7 linked regions of the Homo sapiens genome follow. The protein of the gene in region 7 interacts with the protein of the main gene of each other region in a pairwise test. Each region holds a gene or a part of one and is shown on either strand. Other genes may lie near its edges. The genes, in order: THAP4, MTG2, NOL4, GLRX3, METTL2A, OSTF1 and MAPK6.

Region 1 (3,500 bases), on a different chromosome or scaffold from region 7:
AACTGAGACACAGAGTGGTAAAAATGATACTTTCTGGTTCTGTTATATTTTTGGAGATATTAAGCTGACCACCAAATTACAGGCTTGTTAATCCAAACATAAAAACAAATGCATGTACTTAATTTATGTATCAAAATTAATCACCCTGGCCAGTGCGGTAGCTCATACCTGTAATCCCAGCACTTTAGAGGCTGAGTCAGGAGGATTGCTTGAGCTTAGGAATTGAAGACCAGCCTGGGCAACATAGTGAGACCTTGTCTCTACTGAAAAGTATTTAGCCAGGTGTGGTGACACATGCCTGTAGTCCCAGCTACTCGAGAAACTGAGGTGGGAGGATTGCTTGAACCCAGGGAGGGCCAAGGCTACAGTGAGCTGTGATCATAACACTGTACTCCAGCCTGGGTGACAGAGTGAGAACCTGTCTCAAAAAAAAAAAGAAAAAAATTAGTCACCCAATATTACTGAAAATAATAGTGCATGTTTGTATTTTACACGTACCCCTGAGCTATTTGGGGTCACAAGGAAGCTGTTAGTATGTGGTTCTCATATTCTTACCGTACAAGAAAGCAAAAGCCCCTTGAGGTCCCTCAGTATCCCTTCCCACCACCTGCTCCCCACAGGTGGAGAAATTGCCTGCTTTTAGGGAGATAGCAGTGTAGGCCTCTGAAGTAGAGGAGAGCCACCAGGGATGGGGAGTGGTTGAAGTATCTTTATTTTTTAATTATAGAAGTAATACACAGTTTTTTTAAAGTTTAAACAAAATATAAAAAGCAAACCCTCCCTTAGTCTCCATTACACAACTATATGTTAAGAATCTTATTAAACCAACTTGGTACTATTTGTATAATGCCTAGCAGTTTCAGAACGGGGCTGGGCACCTGGCTCTCAGACCCCCAGCTCTGAGACCCTCCATCCCCTTTTAGAAGATCTCATTGTTTTTAAAAATATCTCCTACCTTTTTATATTATTATTGATTGAATGCATGAGGTCAAAGTAATACATCTGCACATAAACCAAAAGGTGAGAATTCTGGGTAATACAAAATAACCCAGAACCCAAGCAGTCTTTTTTAAACTATAGATTATAACCCACGAAAAGGTCAGAAAGTCAATTTTGTGACTAGCATTCGAAGAAAAATGAACCAGAGTGGAAAATATATTTCAGTAAATGTGATGGTATGTGTGTTTGTGTGTGTGTCCTAGAATATGGTATAAATGTATTTCTTTGTCGGGGTTATGTTAGTGAGCATGTACCATTCTAGAAGGTGTAGCACCATCACTAGCCCAACAGAAATTTATCTTGGCCCAGCGCGGTGGCTCGTGCCTGTAATCCCAGCACTTTGGGAGGCCAAGGCGGGTGGATCACTTGAGTCCAGGAGTCCAAGACCAGCCTGGGCAACACAGTGAGACCCTAAAAAAATTTGTTTTAATAAATAAATAAGTTTATCTTGGCCAGGTGCGGTGGCTGACGCCTGTAATCCCAGCACTTTGGGAGGTCAAGGCAGGTGGATCACTAGAAGTCAAGAGTTCGAGACCAGCCTGGCCAATGTGGTGAAATTGTGTCTCTACTAAAAAAAAATACAAAAATACAAAAATTAGCCGGGTGTGTGGCTGGGCACAGTGGCTCACACCTGTAATCCCAGCACTTTGAGAGGCTGAGGTGGGCAGATCACCTGAGGTTGGGAGTTCAAGATCAGCCTGACCAACATGGAGAAACCTGGTCTCTACTAAAATTACAAAATTAGCCGGGCATGGTGGCGCATGCCTGTAATCCCAGCTACTCGGTAAGGCTGAGGCAGGAGAATCGCTTGAACTCAGGAGGCGGAGGTTGCAGTGAGCCAAGATAGCGCCATTGCACTCCAGCCTGGGCAACAAGAGAGAAACTCTGTCTCAAAAAATAAATAAATAAATAAATAAATAAATTAGCCGGGTGTGGTGGGCGCCTGTAATCCCAGCTACTCAGGAGGCTGAGACAGGAGAATCATTTCAACCCAGGAAGCGGAGGTTTCACTGAGCTGAGACCGCGACGAGCCTGGGTGACAGAGCAAAAAAATAAATAAATAAAGTTTATCTCTAAGAATCATAGAGATGGATTCCCTATAGAAACTCATAAGGTTGGTGAAATGATAAATGAGGCTTTTTTTTTTTTGGTTTGGTTTTTTTGTTTTTATTTTTGTAGAAACAGGGTCTGTGTTGCCCAGCCCTGTCTCAAATTCCTAGGCTCAAGAGATCTACCCGACTGGGCCCCTGAAGTGCTGGGATTACGGCCTTGAGTCACCATGCCAGCGAGTTAGTTTTTAAGCCGTGGTTTTGTGCCCTCAGTTCAAGATGCAGGTGCCTGTCTTTTACTGTTGAGAATTTGCACTAATGATGAAGGGTGATAAGAAACCATACCATAACTCAGCACCTGTTCTGTTTTTTACCGTAGGAATTGATTAGATTCTTACACAAGAGCATAGCTCAAAAGAGAAAGATTGTGTTAGGGTGAGGTTTACTGCAAGGGAGTGCTGAGGGCTGACACTGTGTGAGGCCTGGGCTAACGGGCCCAGGGCAAGGATATGCCCTGAGGTGATTAAGAACAGTGCTGTCTTCAGGAGCTGAGGGTCAGCAGGCAAGACAGACACAGCCAAAATGAGCAAGGTGGTGGAGGGGGCGGGCAGGTGTGCGGGTGTGGCTGGAACAGCCCGTCTTCAGGAGCTGAGGGTCAGCAGGTAAGACAGACACAGCCAAAATGAGCAAGGCGCTGGAGGGGGCGGGCAGGTGTGCGGGTGTGGCTGGAACAGCCCGTCTTCAGGAGCTGAGGGTCAGCAGGCAAGACAGACACAGCCAAAATGAGCAAGGTGGTGGAGGGGGCGGGCAGGTGTGTGGGCGTGGCTGGAACAGCCCGTCTTCAGGAGTGGAGGGTCAGCAGGTAAGACAGACACAGCCAAAATGAGCAAGGTGGTGGTAGGGGCAGACAGGTGTGCGGGTGTGGCTGGAGCAGCCACCTGGAGGGCACCCTGGACAGTTCTGGCATCCACGCAGCCCACGCCATCTTGGAGGCCAGTGCCTGGGCTTCTCAACTCCAACTTCCCGTCCAGGTTCAACTCCTTCCACCCGGACACGCGCAAGCCGATGCACAGAGAGTGTGGCTTCATTCGCCTCAAGCCCGACACCAACAAGGTGGCCTTTGTCAGCGCCCAGAACACAGGTGAGGCCCAGCTTGCGGGGCGGGAGGGCTGGCCATGGGAGGCTGCTGCCTGCATTCGAAGCAGGGGTGCAGGGATGCCCATGTGCAACCCTGCTGAGGCATGTGCTGGTGGGGACCGTGGGGATGGCCCTGAGTGTTGAGAGTGGTCCTGGGAGCCTGCGGGGCCGACTGTGTAGCTGTAGGGGCCTCCGGCACACAGGTTGTGTGCGTGCAGCCCCCTGACCATGAGGGCCCGTTTACCCAGTGCCACGTCTGCAGAAATGGCCATCAGCTGTGTGCATTCATTAGGAATTGCTGGAAAACAGGTTGGG
Region 2 (3,500 bases), on a different chromosome or scaffold from region 7:
TTCGAGACCAGCCTCGGCAAAATAGCAAGACTCCTGTCTCTACCAAAGGAATTAGCTGGGCATGGTGGCGCACCCCTATAGTCCCAGCTACTTTGGAGGCTGAGGTGGGAGAATCACTTGAGCCCATGAATTCAAAGCTGCTATGAGCTATGAATATGCCACCGCACTCCAGCCTGAGCAATAGAATGAGAGAAAGAGACACTTTTTTTTCTTTTTTTTTTTTGAGACAGAGTCTCACTCTGTCACCCAAGCTGGAGCACAGTGACATAATCACAGCTCATTACAGCCTTGACTTCCTGTACTTAAGAGATCCTCCTGCCTCAGCCTCCTGAGTAGCTGGGGCTACAGGTAAGTGCCACTGTGCCTAATTTTTAAATTTTTTTTGCAGAGACAGGGTCTCCCAGTTACCCAGGCTGGTCTCAAGCGATCCTTCTGTCTTGGCCTCCCAAAGTGCTGAGATTACAAGCATGAGCCACCACACCTGGCCTGAGACCCTGTCTAAAAATAGAAAAATAAAAACAGTAAAGACATAAAATCTGAACAATACTATCAAAACATTTATCTAGTTGACATTTACATAACAGTACATCCAACAACTGTACAATATACACTGTTTTCAGGTACAGGTGGAAGTCATCAAACAGACCATAAGATGTGTCATAAGTCTCAATACATTGAGAAGAAATCATAGTCAGTCCTCCGTATCTGTGGGGTCAACAAACCTCACGTCAAAAATATCTGGAAAACAAACAAAAAAACCAGTAACAATACAACAATTTTTTTAATTTAAAAAATAAAGTATAACAGCTATTTACATAGCATTTACATTGTATTGTACTATAAATAATCTAGAGATTACTTGAAGTATACAGAAAGGCCCGGTACAGTGGCTCACACCTGTAATCCCAGCAGTTTGAGAGGCCAAGGCAGGAGAAAAACTTGAGGCCAGGAATTTGAGAACAGCCTGGGCAAAATAGCGAGACCTTGTGTCTACCAAAAAAAAAAAAAAAAAAAAAAAATTAGCTGATTAGCTGGACATGGTGGTGCATGCCTATAATACCAGCTACTTAGGAGGCTAAGGTGGGAGGATCACTTAAGCCCAGGAGTTGGAGGCTGCAGTGAACCATGATCACACACTGCACTCCAGCCTGTGTGACAGAGCTTCTGTGGTGGGGCTGGGGGGAAGTATATGAATACCAACCACAGGGTCTATTCTCGGAATTAAATTGGAAGTCAATAGCTAGAAAATATCTAGGAAAATCCCAAATACCTGCAAATCAAACAAGCTTCTTCTAAATAATCCATAGGCCAAAGAAGAAATCAAAAGAGAAATTACAAAATGTTTTGAACTGAATTATAATGGAAATGCAAAATACCAGAATTTTTTTTTTTTTTTTTTGAGACAGTCTCGCACTGTCGCCCAGGCTGGAGTGCAGTGGTGTGATCTCGGCCCACTGAAAGTTCTGCCTCCCGGGTTCACGCCATTCTCCTGCCTCAGCCTCCCGAGTAGCTGGGACTACAGGCGCCCGCCACCATGAAATACCAGAATTTAAGAGATGCAGCTAGAGTAGTGTTTAGAAGGAAACTTACAGCTCTAATGGCTACCTTGGTAAAGAAGAAAGATCTAAAATCAGTAACCTAAGGCTCCAAATCAAGAAACCAGAAAGAGCAAAGTAAGCGTCGAGTAGAAGGAGGAGAATAATACAGAGCAGAAATAAAGAGACAACAATAACATGTAACAGAAAAAAACAGGTTCACTGAAAAGACAAGCTAACTAACACACTTCTAGCCTGATCAGGAAAACGAGAGAGCGCAAACCTCCACTGTCAGGAATGTTCAACGGGTTATCAGGACACACCTTACAGACAGCCAGAGGGCAAGAGAATGCTGGGAACGACTTCATGCCAGCAAATTCAGTAACAAATTCAACTTACATGAAATGGACAAATTTCTTGAAAAAGGCAACTTATTAAAGAAACACAAGAATAAACAATCTAGAATAGCCCTGTATCTACTCAATAAGTTAAATTTCTTATAAAAGAACACTCCCCAAAGGAAAACTCTAGCTCGGCTTGTTTTCCTGGTAAATTCCATGTAACATTCCAGGAAGAAACAGTGCCAATCTTACACAAGCTTTTTCAGAAAATAGAGGAAGTGAGATCACTATCCAACTCATCCTATGAGGCTAGTACCAAAATCTGACACTAAGAAAAAATAAAATTATAGACCATACCCCTCATGAATATAGATGCAAATAACTCTTAACAAAATATTACCCAATTGAATCCAGCAGTTCAGAAAGGATCACACATCAAGACCTAGTAGGGGTAATCTCAGAACACAAGGCCACATCAAGCAGTCAAAACTCAGCCCAGGCACTTCACTATATCAACAGGTGGTACCACCGTCTCAACACCCACTCATGAGGAGGAAAACAAAACATCTCAGCAAACTGGGAACAGACGGGAACATCTTCGCCCTGATAAGGGCACTACGTAGGGCCGGCCGACAGCTAATCACATTTAATGAAGAAATACTGAATGGTTACCTCCCAAGATGGAGAAAAAGGGCCTCCACACATACCACTGCTATGCAACAATGTCCTTTCACACACTGAAATAAAGGGGGAAAAAAGGAAGAAGTAAAACTGTCCCTGTTTACAGAAGAGAGGACAGAGTTCCACAGAGAATCCCAGGGAAGGCTGGGCACGGTGGCTCATGCCTGTAATCCCAGCACTTTGGGAGGCCGAGGTGGGCGGATCATTTGAGATCAGGAGTTCAAGACCAGCGTGGCCAACATGGTGAAACCCCATCTCTACTAAAAATATAAAAATTAGCCAGGCGTGGTGGCACGTGCCTGTAGTCCCGGCTACTCGGGAGGCTGAGGCAGGAGAATCGCTTGAACCTGGGAGGCAGACGCTGCCGTGAGCCGAGATCACGTTACCGCACTCCAGCCTGGGTGACAGAGCAAGACTCCATCTCAAAAAAAAAAAAAAAAAACAAAAAAAAAAGTCCCAGGGAAGGGAACTGAGCAAGATGGCATGTTATCAGGCTAATATAAAAAAATCAGTTGTATTCTTAAATACCAGCCGCAAACAACTGTAAATTAAAATTAAGAAAAAACCCCATTTATGGTAGTGCCAAATACAAAAAGTACCTGAAAATAATTTCACAGTAAACCTTCAAGACCTCTACCTCACTACTTGCAAAATACTGTTCTAAGTATTTTTCAGGGATTAACTCATTCAGTCCTCATAAAACTCTGTGAAGTAAGTCCTTCATCATCCTCATTTTAAAGTTGCGGAAACTGGGCAGACAGGTGAAGAGACTTAACCCAGAGCTATCAGATGGGAAGGCTCAGGGGTGGTGCATAAAAACAGGTTGGGGAAAAACAACTCGGGCTCATCAACACAAGCATAGCCACGGCTCAGCCTGCTGGAACGTTACACCATCCAGCCCGGATATTCTGGAAACCAGGCTTCCTGATGCAGGTGACATGGA
Region 3 (3,500 bases), on a different chromosome or scaffold from region 7:
AAAGACAAATTCTGTATGATTCCACTTATATGAGGCATCTAAAGTAGTTCAATTCATATAATCAGAAACTAAAATGGCACTTCACCAAGTGATGGAGAGAAAGGAAAAAGGGGAACTGTTGTATAATATAGTTTCTGTTATGCAAGATGAAAAAGCTCTGGAGATCTGTTGCAAGACAATGTGAATATACTTAACACTACTTAAGTCTACAATGTAAAATGATTAATATGGTAACTTTTATGTTGTGTGTTTTTTTTATCACAATTAAAACACATAGTTGGATGGATGGACAGTTGGACAGATAGATATAGATGTAGATAAAACTAAAAAGCTCTTGTGTGGTGGTAAATAAGAAGCTGTTGTATAATGTCCCATTATGTCATGTCAGATTGGGAAGTGATTTTTATTTATTCCATTAATACTGAACATCAAAATGCATCACCCATTATGCCAGGTACTGGAGATTAAATCTTTCTTCAAAATAGTTTTGTGGAAATTTAACAAATTATTAAGCAATAGGCATATTTTATTATATGGTGAGAATCTGATGGCTTCAAGAAATATTAGTTTAGTAGAATCAACCAACAGTTGAACATTGACTATAAGAGGGAGAAATCAAGGCTGCCATACAAATTTCACCTTGTACAGGTAAGTAAAGTTGTGCTGCTATCCATGGAGAGAGGGAATAAGAAAAAGATGTGTCAGCTCGGAGGACCTCGGATGGGAAAATGGAAGGAAGAAAAATGTGTTTCTAGACATACTTAATTTGAGATATTTTGGGATATCTTGGTGAAAACACCCAATAGAAAATCGAAAATACAGCTGACCCTTGAACAACCTGGGGTTAGGTGTACTGACACCCTCTGCCCCTGAAAACCTGCATATAATTTTGCTCCCCCAAAACTTAACTACTAATAGTCTACTGTTGACTGCAAGCCTTAGCAAAAAGATAGTCTATTAAGCCATAAATAGACTAGTGCCTGCATAGATTTTAAGCATTCATGGCATATATTTTTCTTAGATTTTTTATATTTCTAGATTATGCAGTTTATCTGAGAGTTTTTTCAAATTGTTATATATTTCCAAAAATTTTCCAAATACTTATTGAAAAAAATCCACATACAAGTGGACCCAGGCAATCCTGACCTGTGTTGTTCAAGGATCAACTGTACAGATTTAGACTTCAGAAGATATACATTATGTCACCAGAACACAGGCCTAACTGAAGTCATAAACAGGGGCACAGTTACGCAGGACAAAATATAGAGTTAGACAAGAAATTCAAATATATCTTAGCAAAATAATTTAATTTCAAGGATAAAGAAGTAAACAATTCATGAAATTTGGGAAAATCAATTTGCCTTAGAATTTTACAGAGCACACACAATATCTATAATGTTCTGAGAGAAAAAGTAAAATACAGAATCTGCATCTGGTTAGTTGTCCTTCAAGGATAAAGGTAAAAGACAAATACTCTCAATTGTATATAAAATTCAAAGAATAGAGTGCATGGACCTACTTTAGGAAAAAAATGATAAACTGTAATTAGAGTCAATCAAATCAAGGAATTCAGAGGTAAAGGAAACCAGATAACAAAACAGATAATAAACATTTAAATAGGAAAATAATGTTTAAAATGAAATTACATAATTTAACATTAATATCAACAACCCTGACAACACAAACATAATTATAATATAATGAATATAATAAATTATAATATATAATAAGTATAATATAATAAGTGAAATGAAATGTAAACCAGGATCTAAGAAACAAGGAGGTGGGAAGAAGTGAAAATATGCTTCTCATTTATCATTAGAGAAAGTCAATAATACTTATAAAACGGAAATTTGTAATTGGTAAAATAAGTGTAATTCAACATCTTAAAGTTTTTCTTAATCTTTTCCATTAACTTCAGGAATAAATATCTTTGAGAAGAAACATTTATCTATTAGCAATTCATTAAATTTTATGTATTTCTTCTTTTGTCGCATTGACAATCTTATATTTTCTTATTCTTACTTAAATTAGCATATCATCATCATCCTAGTTTTAGAAAATTATTTCTGCCTGTCCATATGCAACTATCAGTCATTTTATCGACTCTTCTTTTGGCATATATTTCTAGAGAGGAATCTAGAATGATGTTCATAATTAGCTTACGGTGATTATATTTTGATGGGACATTTGGTATGACTTTTTCTTTATTTCTTTCCTTTTCATTTAACTTTTTTAAAAAACTGAGACAGTATCACTTTTACAATAACAGTCATTTTTTCTTCCAAAAATGGAGTAGGTAGAATAAATCTTAATAATACATATGTACATAAATACATACAAGTATACCTTGTATTTCTTTCTTTTTTTTTATTTATTTATTTTTTTTGAGATGGAGTCTCACTCTGTTGCCCAGGCTGGAGTGCAATGGTGCGATCTCGGCTCACTGCAACCTCCGCCTCCCGGGTTCAAGCAATTCTCCTGCCTCAGCCTCCCGAGTAGCTGGGACTACAAGGGCACATGGCCACACCCAGCTAATTTTTTTTGTATTTTAGTAGAGATGGGGTTTCACTGTGTTGCCCAGGCTGGTCTCAAACTCCTGAGCTCAGGCAATCCGCCTGCCTCAGCCTCCCAGAATGCTAGGATTACAGGCATGAGCCACCGCGCTTGACCTTGTATTTTAGCTCCGTGTTGCAATGTGATTTTGAGTTCATAAAATATACCTAATTATAATTACATCGTGATTTTCATGTTCTATGAATCATATTTTAAGCAACTTTTTTTTTTAGCATTTACTATGTCCCCGGCATATGCTACATATACCACATGCTTGTGTGTATGTGTGTGTATATGTATGTGTATATATGTGTGCATATGCATATATAGTATATGTTAGTATATATTATATACACTACTAACTATGCAAAACTAGTAAGACTAGTATTAATACTAACATTTTACAAGAGGAAACTGCATCTTTAGTTAAACTTTAGCCGACCCAGAACTCCAGTAAACGTCAGAGCCAGGATTTAAATTGTGCTGTAAAATCAACACTCTACTCACTATGCCATGTTTCTTGCCATCTATGCTATCCATGAAGTTTGTTTTATCTTGTTATATAAAGATTGTAAAAATGAATATAACCTAAAACATAGTAGATTCACATTCATCTTTCCCAGTTAGACCAAAAAAAAAAAAACAAAAAACAAAGAGTGAAAGTCTTAGCAAACACAACAGCTATTAGGAAAAGGTCTTTATAGACTTGACACAAAATTAAAGTCCTTGAAAGTTCTCCTGCCATATGCCTGTATTTTCTACTTCATCATTCCTCCGTCTTATGCAGTGAGTCTAGAGAGTAAACCCGTAGGGAGCAGGATCCCAGCAAACTAAGGAAGATTACAGAAGAAATATATACGAGTGCCAAATCTTGCCCCATCTCCCTATTGTGGCTACTAATAGGACAAGGAAGAACCAACGGAAAAATAAAAAACTGGTATCTC
Region 4 (2,891 bases), on a different chromosome or scaffold from region 7:
ATAACAACTCACAATTTTCTCAGGACACTAGATTAGCTGAGTAACTAAATCATCATTCAGTCCCTCATTCAACAAAACAAACGCTCATTGCTCCAAAGAGGCCAGCCAGATTAGACCATTTCAAACATCTTTTAATTGAACTGAACATGAAGAACTGCATTCTGCAAGAAACAGATCAAAATGGGATCGTAAGATCTATTCCATATATCTTCTCAAGGAAAAACGTTAACAATATCACACATTTCAAACGTATATGTTCTTAGCAGGTGAACATAAAAAATCATATAACACTCTGTTATATAACTAAAAAGAAGTTACCCACGCAGCTTAGCTTTAGAATTAAATGAGATTTATTGATTGTATCTTCCCAAGAGTTACCAATGGCTAAGGTACAGGCTATAAAACATTCAGACAAGAACAGGCTCAAGAGTATTTGGGGTTTGAGTATTCTTTGTGTCTTACAAAAATAAGACTATATATATATATATAGAGAGAGAGAGAGAGAGAAAGAGGGAGGGAGGGAGGGAGGGAAGGAGGGAGGGAGGGAAGAAACAAATGCAGATCTGTTTCTGCTGCTTCAGGGCTATTCAAGAGCAATAGTCTTAAAAATTTTTTCCTCCAGGAGTGAGACCATTCCCCAGGAAAAATGTCTCACTGGCTTGTTTAAGAAGTATGATATCAAACCTGGAACTCCACAGGAAACAAAACCTACACAGAGGCCACCAAAGGACAAAAAGAGCCTCTGCATCAATGGAACTCAAGCTTTGTTTTTATAAAACATATTGGTCCAAAGTGCTGATGTCATTTCAGTGGTAGGCTAGTGCTTCACTTTACAAAAGCACGTGTTAAAAACTTTTATTTTGGCCAGGCGCGGTGACTCATGCCTGTAATCCCAGCACTTTGGGAGGCCAAGGTGGGCGGATCACCTGGGGTCAGCAGTTCAAGACCAGCCTGGCCAACATGGTGAAACCCCATCTCTACTAAAAATACAAAAATTAGTGGGGCGTGGTGGCGGGTGCCTGTAATCCCAGCTACTCAGGAGGCTGAGGCAGGAGAATCACATGAACCTGGGAGGCAGAGGCTGCAGTGAGCCGAGATTGCACCATTGCACTCCAGTGGGGAACAAGAGCGAAACTCTCTCAAAAAAAAATGTAAAAAAAAAAAAAAAACTTTTATTTTACAACATAACTAGAAGTAGTACTACTTGCTATTTGTTTTCCACATAAAAAGTCGAAGATCTGACCTCAGAAAATTCTCTCATGGATTGAGGCAAGAGGAAGGCCTGAGGGCAGTCAGCAACCCACTTTTCGGGGCAGTTTTGTTCATGCCCCTGAGCAGACCCTGGCATTCCTGCCCAGCATTCCTGTCTAGCTCCTCTCTATACCCAACCAGCTACCACCCTCCTCGATGCCACCATGCCCACAGTGGGCCTGGGGTGCAGTGGGGTCTGTGTGTAGATATTAAAGCTACAGCTTCTGTTTATTGTTTTGGGCTAATCAAAGAGCTACAGAGCACACAGGTGTTAGTTGGTGGGCCTGCCCTGAATTCTAGACATTAAATACATGCAAAGTAACGTCCATTTAAAACTCAATCAAGAAGTAAAGTCACTTATCCATCCAACAACCATTTACTGAACTCCTAAAATACACAAAGCATCAGGAAGGACTCAAGATACATAAGAAATGGTGTCTTATCTAAAACACAATCTAACAGATAACAGATTTCCAAGCATCTCAAAACCAAAAAGGACCTACATTTTTTCTTTCGGGGGACCAGGGGCAGTGATCCTCAGCCTCTGTGGCAAGGATGGGCAGCACCGGGCCACAGGCCTCACACTGCTGTCACTCCATGCACCCAAGGGCAGATGAGTAAGGCAAGAAAAAACAATTTGTTGTCTGGGAGCTGAAGCAGGATCTAACAAGGACCCTGAGTGACAGGGAAGATCACCCCACAGAAAGGAGATGCAATGGTTAGCTCAGGTGTGAAAGTAAGAACAGGCTGCCACGTGGGGACAGTGAGAATGGCAGGGTAGTCATGCACACAGAAACGGTGATACTGGTCTAGAAATGTCTGAGAGTCAGGCTGGAAACAGGAGTCAAAAACAACTCTCAAGTTTCCATTCAATATGAAATCATTTTTAAACATACCAAAATCTTTTCCGTTCTTTAGAACAGCAGAAGAACTGGCCTTACCTTCACAATATCCAATCCTCCCACCAGCTCCCCTTTCACATACAGCTGAGGGTATGTTGGCCAATTTGAGTAAGCTTTTAATCCTTGCCGAACCTAAAGAAACAACAGGAATCCTGAAACCATCCTATCAGGCCCTTAAGATTAAAGCTAAGACAAGGGTGAAACATCAAACACAGAACTTACTTCTTCATCCTCCAATATATCGAATGTTTCATATTCAACACTGCAAAAAAGAGAAGACATTTTAACTGGAAATACAGTTAAATCAAAGTGTAAAACCTCTATGCATTTGATGTTTTTAAAATAATCAAGAAAACCGTTTCACTGCTAACAAAATGTACTACAGACCAATGGAAATGATTTTACTTCTTAATCTGTCTGGTACTACACAGAATTAGTCATTCCAACATATGACTTTATCTGGATTTTTCTCCGGACAATATTGGGTTAGACCAGGGGTGGGCAAACTTCTTCTTAAAGAGTCAGACACTAAACACTTCAGGCTTTACAGGCCAGACAGTCTCTGCTGCAACTGCTCAGTTCTGCTCTCTGCTGCAACTGTCAGCATAAAAGCAGCCACAGACAATGTATAAATGAAGGGATGTGGCTATGTGCCAATATAACTTTATTTACAAAAATGGGCAGCCAGCTGCAACTTGCCAACCCCTGGATCAGACCCACACCCCCATCTGCACGAGC
Region 5 (2,994 bases), on a different chromosome or scaffold from region 7:
TATATAAATTTATTATTCCAAAATTTAGAAAAACATCAACAAGGTGAAAGCTAGGCATCTTTGTTTCTGAGATGCAGTTTCGCTCTTGTCACCCAGGCTGGAGTGCAATGGCACCATCTCGGCTCACTGCAACCTCTGCCTCCCAGGTTCAAGCAATTCTACTTCAGCCTCCTGAGTAGCTGGGATTACAGGCGCCCACAGCCATGCCGGGCTGATTTTTTATTTTTTAGTGGAGACGGGGTTTCACTATGTTAGCCAGGCTGGACTGGAACTCCTGACCTCAAGTGATCTGCCCACCTCGGCCTCCCAAAGTGCTGGGATTATAGGCATGAGCCGCCACGCCTGGTCGAAAAGTCCTTACTTTCTAAAATTAAGGATATATCCTATAACTGCATGGATCAAGAGAGAAATATGTAAAAATAACTGAAAAAATGCAGAACATAAAAAAAAAGGATCTAACAATTAGCTAGGCATGATGGTGCCCACCTGCAGTCCTAGCTACTCAGGAGGCTGAGGCGGAGGGATGGCTTGAGCCAGAAGTTTGAGGTGATAATGAGCTATCATTGCACCACTGAACTCCAGCCTGGGCAACAAAGTGAGAGCCCTGTCTCCTTAAAAAAAAAAAAAAAAAAAAAAAAAAAAAGGCATCTAACACTGATAATGATCACATTCAGAAGTGAAGTGATGATGTGGTTAAAATTAAGAAGTTCCCTCAATTCCTTTTGTGTCAAACACTTAAGGGTGCATTAAAAAAGATAATTTTGCAAAAAGTGAAAATTCTTTTCTTTTTTTTTTTTGAGACGGAGTCTTCCTCTGTTGCCCAGGCTGGAATGCAGTGACATGATCTTGGCTCACTGCAACCTCCACCTCCCAGGTTCAAACGATTCTCCTGCCTCAGCCTCCCGAGTAGCTGGGACTACAGGGGACTACAGGTGTGTGCCACCATGCCCAGCTAATTTTTTTGGTATTTTTAGTGGAGACGAGGTTTCACCGTGTTGGCCAGGATGGTCTCGATCTCCTGACCTCGTGATCCGCCTGCCTCAGCCTCCCAAAGTGTTGGGATTACAGGCATGAGCTGCCGCACCCGGCCAAATTCTTTTAATTCTTTAGACACAGGTTAGAGGGGGAACAATGCTTAAAATTCCATGGAACTAAGATTTTTTTTTTATTTTTATTTTTTTGAGACAGAGTCTTGCTTTGTTGCCCAGGCTGGAGTGCAGTGGCACAATCTCAGCTCACTGCAACCTCTGCCTCCTGGGTTCAAGCAATTCTCCTGCCTCAGTCTCCCAAGTAGCTGGATTACAGGCACCCACCAACACACTCAGCTAATTTTTTTATCTTTAGTAGAGACGGGGTTTCACCATGTTGGCCACGCTGGTCTCCAACTCCTGACCTCAGCTGATCCGCCCGCCTTGGCCTCCCAAAGTGCTGGGATTACAGGTGTGAGCCACCGTGCCTGGCGGAACTAAGATTAAAGCGAAGACCACGATCAATTACTTAACAAGAACACCACATTTTGATGCTCTCTGTAGGGTCATTTTTTTTTGTCAGGAAAATATCTGATCTGATTCTTCCCAGCTTGCTTCCCCTACAACTTAATAAGCCCTTCACTAACCTCTGTATGTATTAACTGCAATTGCCTAGCCCGGCATTTACATTCTCAAAAGATTTAACGCAATTACAGTCAAAAAACACTTGTCATATGTAACACTTTTTCACATGGAAATAAATTGGTGGTTTAAGGTTTACAATTCCTTTGAATAAAATTTCAGTTATTAGTTACAAAATGCTAAGACAGATTGAGATCTCAAAGAAAGAACTTGAGAAAATTATGTTTTAAAGGACTTCACAAATATGAAGCATAATTGTTAGAATCCTGATACAAAGTAACTTTTCCTAGGTTTAAGGTTCAAGTCTGAATTCTTGAATTGTCCAACATCAACGAGACCTCATTTATATTTTTTATTTTTATTATTACTTTCAGATACAGGGTCTCTCACTATTTTGCCCAGGTTGGACTGCTGGGCTCAATGGATCCTCCCCGCCTCAGCCTCCTGAGTGGCTGGGATTACAGGCATGCACCACGCCCAGTGCTACAATTTTTTTTTTAAAAAAGCCCGGAAACACAATGGGCTTGCATCGTGTTGGCAGCAGGTGCCTCTCAGCTGGTGCTGGACAGAAGGGGCTTGCAGTATTTGCACTGAATCCAAACCCGGTACATTGTCAGTTGCTTTCCTCGGTTCACCTGCAGTCGGCGATCCACCAGGTTCTGAACTTTTTCCAGTCCAGCAGTGGTGAAAAGCGTGTCCAGTTCCTCTAGTGTGGAAAATAAAAGATGTTTATGCATTTTTCCCCTCAAGAAAAGGCATTTTTATCTACTAAGTCCTTGTTAAAAGGGGCTCTGGGAAGTTGCTGTCATGTTTTTTACATGGCCATTTGGTTATAAATGCAGTGGTGGCTTGGTAACAGTAAGTTCATGTTTAGGTAGGGGAAGCCACTGCGTATGGGCCGCGGTTTTTTCTTTTTTAAAAACCTTTGGTTTATATTTGGCCTTTAGGCTCTATGAACACCTTAAAATTTATGCAAAAATATCTATGTATGTCAAAGCAATTGTTTTAGGAAAGTGGTTTCATCATCTTAACCAAAGGCTCAAAGAAGGTGACCCTGAAAAGGGCCCAGGAACGGAGAATTTGGAAGGCCCAGGTGAAGGATGAAGCCTGTGGATAGGCCAGTTGCAGAGGAGAGCAGTTCCCAGCACCCCTAGAACCCAGGGTTCACCCTGACCCGGGCACACCAAAGCACAACCCCGTGTAGAGGGTGAAACAGGCTGGACTGGAGATGAGCCTTGCAGAGTGGGCAGGCTTCCCATTTTGGACAGTGGCAGACAGGGAGAGCAGAGCAGGACTGAAGGCATGGACAAGCCAGGGCTGCCTGGGGGCCCCAGTGCCTGGCTGCCATGGGTAGCCTAGCCCAGGGTGGAAGAGGGTGTGAGCA
Region 6 (3,500 bases), on a different chromosome or scaffold from region 7:
TAAATTCTAGACATCATATTATTTCATTTGTAAATATTTCAGTACGTATCTCTGAAAGACACATACTTTTTGAAAGGCAATTATAATGCCATTATCACAGCTTAAAAGTTTTTTCCAACAATAATTCCTTAATATCATCAAATATCTAGGTCGATACTCAAATTTCCCAACTGCCCCATAATTTGGGACTCAAATAAGGGCTATACAATATGATTGATTTGTCTTTAAGTATCTTTTAATCTATAGGTTGTCTCTCCATTCTTTTTTATCTCTTACAATGTATTTGTTGAAGAATCCAGTTGGTTTGTTCTGTAGTGTCAACCTCTATGGATTTTGCCTGTTGTATCCCTGTGTTATCATTAAGCATGTTCCTCTGTTCCCTGTATTGCCTATAAATTGGTCATCAGTTCTAGAGGTTTAATTAGATTCAGCTCCAATTTTTTTTGGCAAGGCTATTTCCTAGGCAGTATTGATTTCTTCCATTAGGAAATGCAAACTATCTAGTCGGCTTCTTTTTGTAATGTTAGTAGCCCTTGATGATCATTGTCTAGATCCACTATTTCCTAGAGGCTGCAAGATGGTGACATTCTAATTCTATCATTCCTTCTTCATTGAAATAACCTGAATACCTCTTTAAACAAAAACTTCCTCATCAGCTCTCAGATTGCCCAGGTAAGAAATTCATAAAGAAAACACAGAATAAATGGTGATTCTTTCCCTTAACAGTTGTCAGAATAAAAACCTGATTTCCTAGCATTCTCTCATGCTGACCAATGAGATTTCCTCAGAAGTAACATTAGAAACTCATAAATTTAAATGTATTTAATGGGTTTCAATTCTTGGAAGTTGTTGCCCTAATTGATGCTCAAATTGTCCTATCTTTGGCCAGTGGGAGTCTCTTCAAGTTCGTTCCCAAGTCCTTTCAGTGTGACCCTACTGTCTTTAGGAGCTTCCATGTTTTCTAATAAGAGGATGTTCTGGGTTTATCTTGTACCTCTGCTGCCCCTGACTTGGTACCAGCCATTTCTCAAAGAAGCCTGTACATTTCAATGGAAAATAACATATTATTATTGGGTTGGTCATTTTTCCTAGGCCCTTTCAAAGAACACAGCAGGGAATATTTTTGTTTTATTTTAGATAAAATACAATGTGATCCTTGCAATTCAGATGAAGGAATACAGAGTTTTTCTTAAACTGTCATTAATCTTACATCTGTGTATCCTTTTTGCTATGCTGAAAATCCGTTAGCAACATCACCGACCTAATTACTCATTTGCTCTAAACCACAATACACATGCAACAATCTCAGAATTAGCAATACCTACATTTCCCTAACAAGGGCATGATTTAAAACAATTTACCCTTTTTTGGCCATTTCTTTTTGTCCATATATATATATGGACAAAATATATATATATATATATATATATATGGACAAAATATATATATATATATATATATGGACAAAATATATATATATATATATGGACAAAATATATATATATATATATGGACAAAATATATATATATATATATGGACAAAATATATATATATATGGACAAAATATATATATATATGGACAAAATATATATATATATGGACAAAATATATATATATATATATATATATATATATATATATATATATATGTCTTTCATACATATCCATATTCTACTATGGATGTTCAGTCAAATTGCTGAGTTTTAAACTTGGAATATTTCCTCTCTGTGTGGTTAGGCCAATTACCAGGGTACAATTAAGTTCATTTGATTCATTCTGCTTTTAATTTTTAGGGATTGCTTTTTACTTCAATTTTTAACCATGTCAAGGTTTACATCAGTTCAAAGTCAAATCCACAAAACAAGGTATAATTTTCTAAAAAGTCTATCTTCCATCTATGTTCATTATACCCTATTTCTCTCCTTCCACCTAGAGAAAGGATCTTTACTCTTCATAGAATAAAACTAAATTTTACTTTGCAACTCATCTTTCAACTTTTTATCTGAAATTGAGAAAAACAAGTGTCTGCATGTATGTGTGTGTACACATACACTCTCACCCTTTCCTAGAAAACTGAGGATATATTATCTACATTTTCTCACTTTGCTTTTTTTTTCACTTAAATTACTTCATAATAGCATATAGAGATATTCCCCATTTCTTTCTACAGCTGCATAATATTCTGTTTGTGGCTAGACCAAAGCTTATTCAACTCTTTCCCTATTGATGGAAATAAGGGCTATTTTCAATCTTATGCTACTATCAATTGTGCTAAAATGAACAGACTTGTACATATGTATTTCTATGTACATATATATTTAAATAACTTACAATGTTATAGCTACATAAAACAGTCTTTATATGTGGTATTACAAGATGTTATCTGGACTTACCATGTCAGTAATGTAGATAATATCACCTTCCTCAAAGTATAATTCATCTGGCTAGAAGAAAAAAAAAAGTTTGACTCCATGTGATTTTTCATGAATTAGAATATGATTATATAGATTCAAAATTCTATCATATTCTAATAAGCAATGTGGTTTTATACACTTAAATCAGCACATAAGCCATATAATAAAACACTACTGAAAAATTAACACATGAATAGACGGCTAGATTTTTTTCCCATGATGAACTTCAAAGAATTACATATATAAAGATTCTCCACACACATCTTGCATTCTTCTACAACCAAAGCAAGACATTTGTATATCAAAATAGAGTATTAATAAAACTTCTTCCTTGTAGAAATTCTAAAAGGTGGTATACATTTTTTCATAAAAATATAAATGTCTAGAATTAGAGTCATGAAAAACAGCCAGAAGCTTGATTTTCTCTTAAACAAGGCCTCAATCCTTGAACACTTTAAGATCAACATCTGCTATCTGCTCATTTTAAGAAAATCATTATCCTAGCTCTTCATGTTCAGGGAGAATGAACATTTTCTGTATGAGAAAAGTTAATATGTAATTCAACCATTAATAAGGCTAAAGAGCTAAAAGATATGAAGCAGTAACTCAGCCAGTCCAGAAACCCCAAGCAGCTCTAAGGAGTTGGCTAATTACACAGACCATATGTGCTCTGGCCTGTACCAACCAAATGTTCTAAAAACTTTCTGAGGCCAGGTGCGGTGGCTCATGCCTGTAATCCCAGCACTTTGGGAGACCAAGGCAGGTGGTTCACAAGGCCAGCAGTTCAAGACCAGCCTGGCCAAGATGGTGAAACCCCATCTCTACTAAAAATACAAAAATTAGCTGGGCATGGTGGGGGATGCCTGTAATCATAGCTACTCGGGAGGCTGAGGCAGAGAATTTCTTGAACCCGGGAGGCAGAGGTTGCGGTGAGCTGAGATCACGCCACTGCACTCCAGCCTGGGTGACAGAGCGAGACTCCGTCTCAAAAAACAAAACAAAACAAACAAACAAACAAAAACAACCAAAAAACACTTTCTGAATAAAGATACACATTTTAAACATCTTTTGACCATCAGTAGATA
Region 7 (3,500 bases):
TAAAAATACAAAAATTAGCCAGGCGTGGTGGTGTGCGCCTGTAATCCCAGCTACTGGGGAGGCTGAGGCAGGATAATCACTTGAACCCAGTAGATGGAGGTTGCAGTGAGCCAATATTGCGCCACTGCACTCCAACCTGGACGACAGCGAGACTCCGTCTCAGAAACAAAAAAAAGCATACAGTATAACAAGGTGTAAAGTAGAAGGAAAACAAGAACATATGTCTCATAAAATGAGAAGTAGATGAATAGGCCGAAAACAGTGGTCAACTATATTGAATGCTCCTACAAGAGCCTGTAAGACTAATTTAGTAAATAGAAACCACTGGCAACCTTGACTAGAGTAGTTTTAGTGGTAAGAATGGAGGCCAATCTGTAGTAGGCTGAGAAGCAAAGGGAAGTGGAGAGAGCACAAAAAGACAACTTTTGAAAACTGGCTTGGAAGAGAATCAGAGAAATGAGGCTGTAGCTAGAGAATAATGTGGAATGGCGAGAGGGCTTATAAACAAGGAAGCCACACTTAGTGCTGTCCAATAGTGTTGTCTGCAATGATAGGGATGTTCTATATCTGCACTGTCCAATAGAGCAGCCATTAGCACCATATATGGCTACTGAACAACTGAAATATGACTAGCATCACTGAGGACCTAAATTTTTTAAATTTTTCTTTTAACAGCCACACATTTCATTGCAGAAAGCACTATTGATTAGTAGCTACCATACTGGACAGTACAGCCCTAAAGCACATCTGCATATTAATAAAGATAATCCAGAAAGGGAAAAATTCATGATGTAGGCAAGAACGAGGTAAGTCCTTAAGAAGTCAACAGGCTGGCAGGGTGCGATGGCTCACTCCTGTAATCCCAGCACTTTGGGAGGCCAAGGCAGATGAATCACTTGAGGTCAGTAGTTCAAGACCAGCCTGGTCAACACAGAGACGAATCCGTCTCTACTAAAAATACAAAAATTGCCGGGCGCGGTGGTTCACACCTGTAATCCCAGCACTTTGGGAGGCCGAGGCGGGCGGATCACAAGGTCAGGAGATCGAGACCATCCTGGCTAACACGGTGAAACCCTGTCTCTACTAAAAATACAAAAAATTAGCCGGGCGTGGTGGCAGGCGCCTGTAGTCCCAGCTACTCGGAAAGCTGAGGCAGAAGAATGGCGTGAACCTGGGAGGCAGAGCTTGCAGTGAGCTGAGATCGCACCACTGCACTCCGCCTGGGCAACAGAGCGAGACTCCGTCTCAAAAAAAAAAAAAAAAAAAAAAAATACAAAAATTAGCCGGGCGTGGTGGTGGGCACCTGCAGTCCCAACTACTCAAGAGGCTGAGGCAGAAGAATCACCTGAATCTGGGACGCAGAGGCTGCAGTGAGCCAAGATCGTGCCACTGCACTCCAACCTGGCCAACAGAGTGAGACTCCATCTCAAAAAACAGTAAATAAATAAATAAATAAATAAATAAATAAAGAGAAATCAACAGGCTGAGCAGAGTGGCTCATGCCTGTAATCCCAGCACTTTTTGAGGCCGAGTCAGGATGATTGCTTGAGCCCAGCCTGGGCAACACAGGGAGACCCCGCCTATAAAAAAAAAAAAAAAAATTAAGATTAAAAAAAAAGTCAAGAGAAGACATCCAGAGCACAAATGGCACAATCTACATGGGATACAACATGAACAAAGCAAGGCATGAAATTACAGTAACGGGTAGAGATGAAGACTCAGAATATGTATTAAGCCTGATTGGAATCTTAAGCATAAAACTCAATTACAGAGGGCTATAAAATCCAAGCAGGAGGGGGAGGGTAGGTAACTTACATCTACTAAGGACCTATTATGTGACAGGCATTTTCTTTTTTTTTTTTTTTTTTTGAGAGGGAGTCTCGCTCTGTCACCCAGCCTGGAGTACAGTGGCACGATCTCGGCTCACTGCAAGCTCCGCCTGCTGGGTTCAAGCAATTTTTCTGTCTCAGCCTCCCGAGTAGCTGGGATTACAGGCATACGCTACCATGGCCAGTTTTTTCGTATTTTTAGTAGAGATGGGGTTTCACCACGCTGGCCAGGCTGGTCTTGAACTCCTGACCTTGTGATCCGCCCGCCTCGGCCTCCCAAAGTCCTGGGATTACAGGCATTAGCCACCGCGCCCGGCTGTGACAGGCATTTTCTTTTTTCAAGACAGAGTATTGCTCTGTCGCCCAGGCTGGAGTGCAATGGTGTGATCTCGGCTCACTGCAACCTCCGCCTCCTGGGTTCAAGCGATTCTCCTGCCTGGGCCTTCAGAGTAGCTGGGAGTACAGGTATGCACCACCATACTCAGCTAATTTTTTGTATTTTAGTAAAGACGGGTTTTCATCATGTTGGCCAGGCTAGTCTAGAACTCCTGACTTTGTGATCCGCCTGCCTCGGCCTCCCAAAGTGCTGAGATTACAGGCATGAGCCATCGCGCCCAGCCATGACAGGCATTTTCTAAATGACAAATTATTTCTCTCATCTCAAACTACAGTCTTGTAAATGTCATTTTACAAACAAGAGCACTGATGCTCTTTACACACACAGTAAATGCCAAGATTTGGACATAGGCCTGTGACTATAGGGTTAGAATCTTCCCACTGCATAAGGTGGGAGGTTAAGGCCAGGCACGGTGGCTCACGCCTGTAATCCCTGCACTTTGGGAGGCCGAGACGGGTGGATCACTTGAGGTCAGGAGTTCAAGACCAGCCTGGCCAACATGGTTGAAACCCCATCTCTACTAAAAACATAAAATTAGCTGGGCGTGGTGGTGCATGCCTGTAATCCCAGCTACTTGGGAGGCTGCAGCAGGAGAATCACTTGAACCCAGGAGGCGGAGGCTGCAGTGAGCGAAGATCACACCATTGCACTCCAACCTGAACAATAAGAGCAAAACTCCGTCTCAAAACAACGACAACAACAAAACAAAAAAAGGTAGGAGGTTAAGAACCACTGTTTCGGTACCTGGAATTAACATAAACAGCAGATCAATCTGGAAGTAATCAACAAGTGCCAACAAGCCTAGAGGGACTAGGCCAGAGGCAAAAACTATCCTGCCAATGCTTTCCACAGGATAACTAAGGAAAACTTAATAGCTACTTTTTAAAAATTCAAGTGAAAATACCTGTTAAGATGGAAAGAAACTGACTTGCTTACAACTTAGATTATCTACTTTATTGAACACAGATGTATCAATTAGAAAATCAGCACTGTTTTATAATACATACTGAAATAATATCTGGGCATATTAGAAAAACTAAGTCAACATACTCTCTCTCCAATTTGTACATTAAGAAAGGACAATTATTAAACTGAGTCTAACCAGTTATTAAATTACAGCTTAGATTTTAGAGTGGGCAAAGATCATCTAGATCTGTGCTGTCCATGTAACCACCAGCTACATCCAACTATTTTTATTTTTTTTTGAGACGTAGTCTTGCTCTGTCACCCAGACTGGAGTGCAGTGGCGCTCACTGCAAGCTCCGCCTCCTGGG

What was found.
Region 1: the proteins of MAPK6 (region 7) and THAP4 interact in a two-hybrid assay, tested with the Homo sapiens proteins (one large-scale study listed by BioGRID and IntAct).
Region 2: the proteins of MAPK6 (region 7) and MTG2 interact in a two-hybrid assay, tested with the Homo sapiens proteins (one large-scale study listed by BioGRID and IntAct).
Region 3: the proteins of MAPK6 (region 7) and NOL4 interact in a two-hybrid assay, tested with the Homo sapiens proteins (one large-scale study listed by BioGRID and IntAct).
Region 4: the proteins of MAPK6 (region 7) and GLRX3 interact in a two-hybrid assay, tested with the Homo sapiens proteins (one large-scale study listed by BioGRID and IntAct).
Region 5: the proteins of MAPK6 (region 7) and METTL2A interact in a two-hybrid assay, tested with the Homo sapiens proteins (one large-scale study listed by BioGRID and IntAct).
Region 6: the proteins of MAPK6 (region 7) and OSTF1 interact in a two-hybrid assay, tested with the Homo sapiens proteins (one large-scale study listed by BioGRID and IntAct).

Annotation. Positions count from the first base shown.
Region 1 is NC_000002.12:241,602,659-241,606,158, reverse strand, and holds part of THAP4 (peroxynitrite isomerase THAP4), read left to right. Parts: intron 1-3,079; coding exon 3,080-3,189; intron 3,190-3,500. UniProt on the Homo sapiens protein: Heme-binding protein able to scavenge peroxynitrite and to protect free L-tyrosine against peroxynitrite-mediated nitration, by acting as a peroxynitrite isomerase that converts peroxynitrite to nitrate.
Region 2 is NC_000020.11:62,186,028-62,189,527, reverse strand, and holds part of MTG2 (mitochondrial ribosome-associated GTPase 2), read right to left. Parts: intron 995-3,500; exon of another isoform or gene 690-994; coding exon of another isoform or gene 647-689; intron 20-646; exon of another isoform or gene 1-19. UniProt on the Homo sapiens protein: Plays a role in the regulation of the mitochondrial ribosome assembly and of translational activity. Displays GTPase activity. Involved in the ribosome maturation process.
Region 3 is NC_000018.10:34,214,914-34,218,413, forward strand, and holds part of NOL4 (nucleolar protein 4), read right to left. Parts: intron 1-3,500.
Region 4 is NC_000010.11:130,174,391-130,177,281, reverse strand, and holds part of GLRX3 (glutaredoxin-3), read right to left. Parts: intron 2,416-2,891; coding exon 2,376-2,415; intron 2,286-2,375; coding exon 2,193-2,285; intron 1-2,192. UniProt on the Homo sapiens protein: Together with BOLA2, acts as a cytosolic iron-sulfur (Fe-S) cluster assembly factor that facilitates [2Fe-2S] cluster insertion into a subset of cytosolic proteins.
Region 5 is NC_000017.11:62,447,897-62,450,890, reverse strand, and holds part of METTL2A (tRNA N(3)-cytidine methyltransferase METTL2A), read right to left. Parts: intron 2,317-2,994; coding exon 2,162-2,316; 3' UTR 1-2,161.
Region 6 is NC_000009.12:75,126,514-75,130,013, reverse strand, and holds part of OSTF1 (osteoclast-stimulating factor 1), read right to left. Parts: intron 2,446-3,500; coding exon 2,395-2,445; intron 1-2,394.
Region 7 is NC_000015.10:52,025,719-52,029,218, reverse strand, and holds part of MAPK6 (mitogen-activated protein kinase 6), read right to left. Parts: intron 1,581-3,500; exon of another isoform or gene 1,346-1,580; intron 1-1,345. UniProt on the Homo sapiens protein: Atypical MAPK protein. Phosphorylates microtubule-associated protein 2 (MAP2) and MAPKAPK5.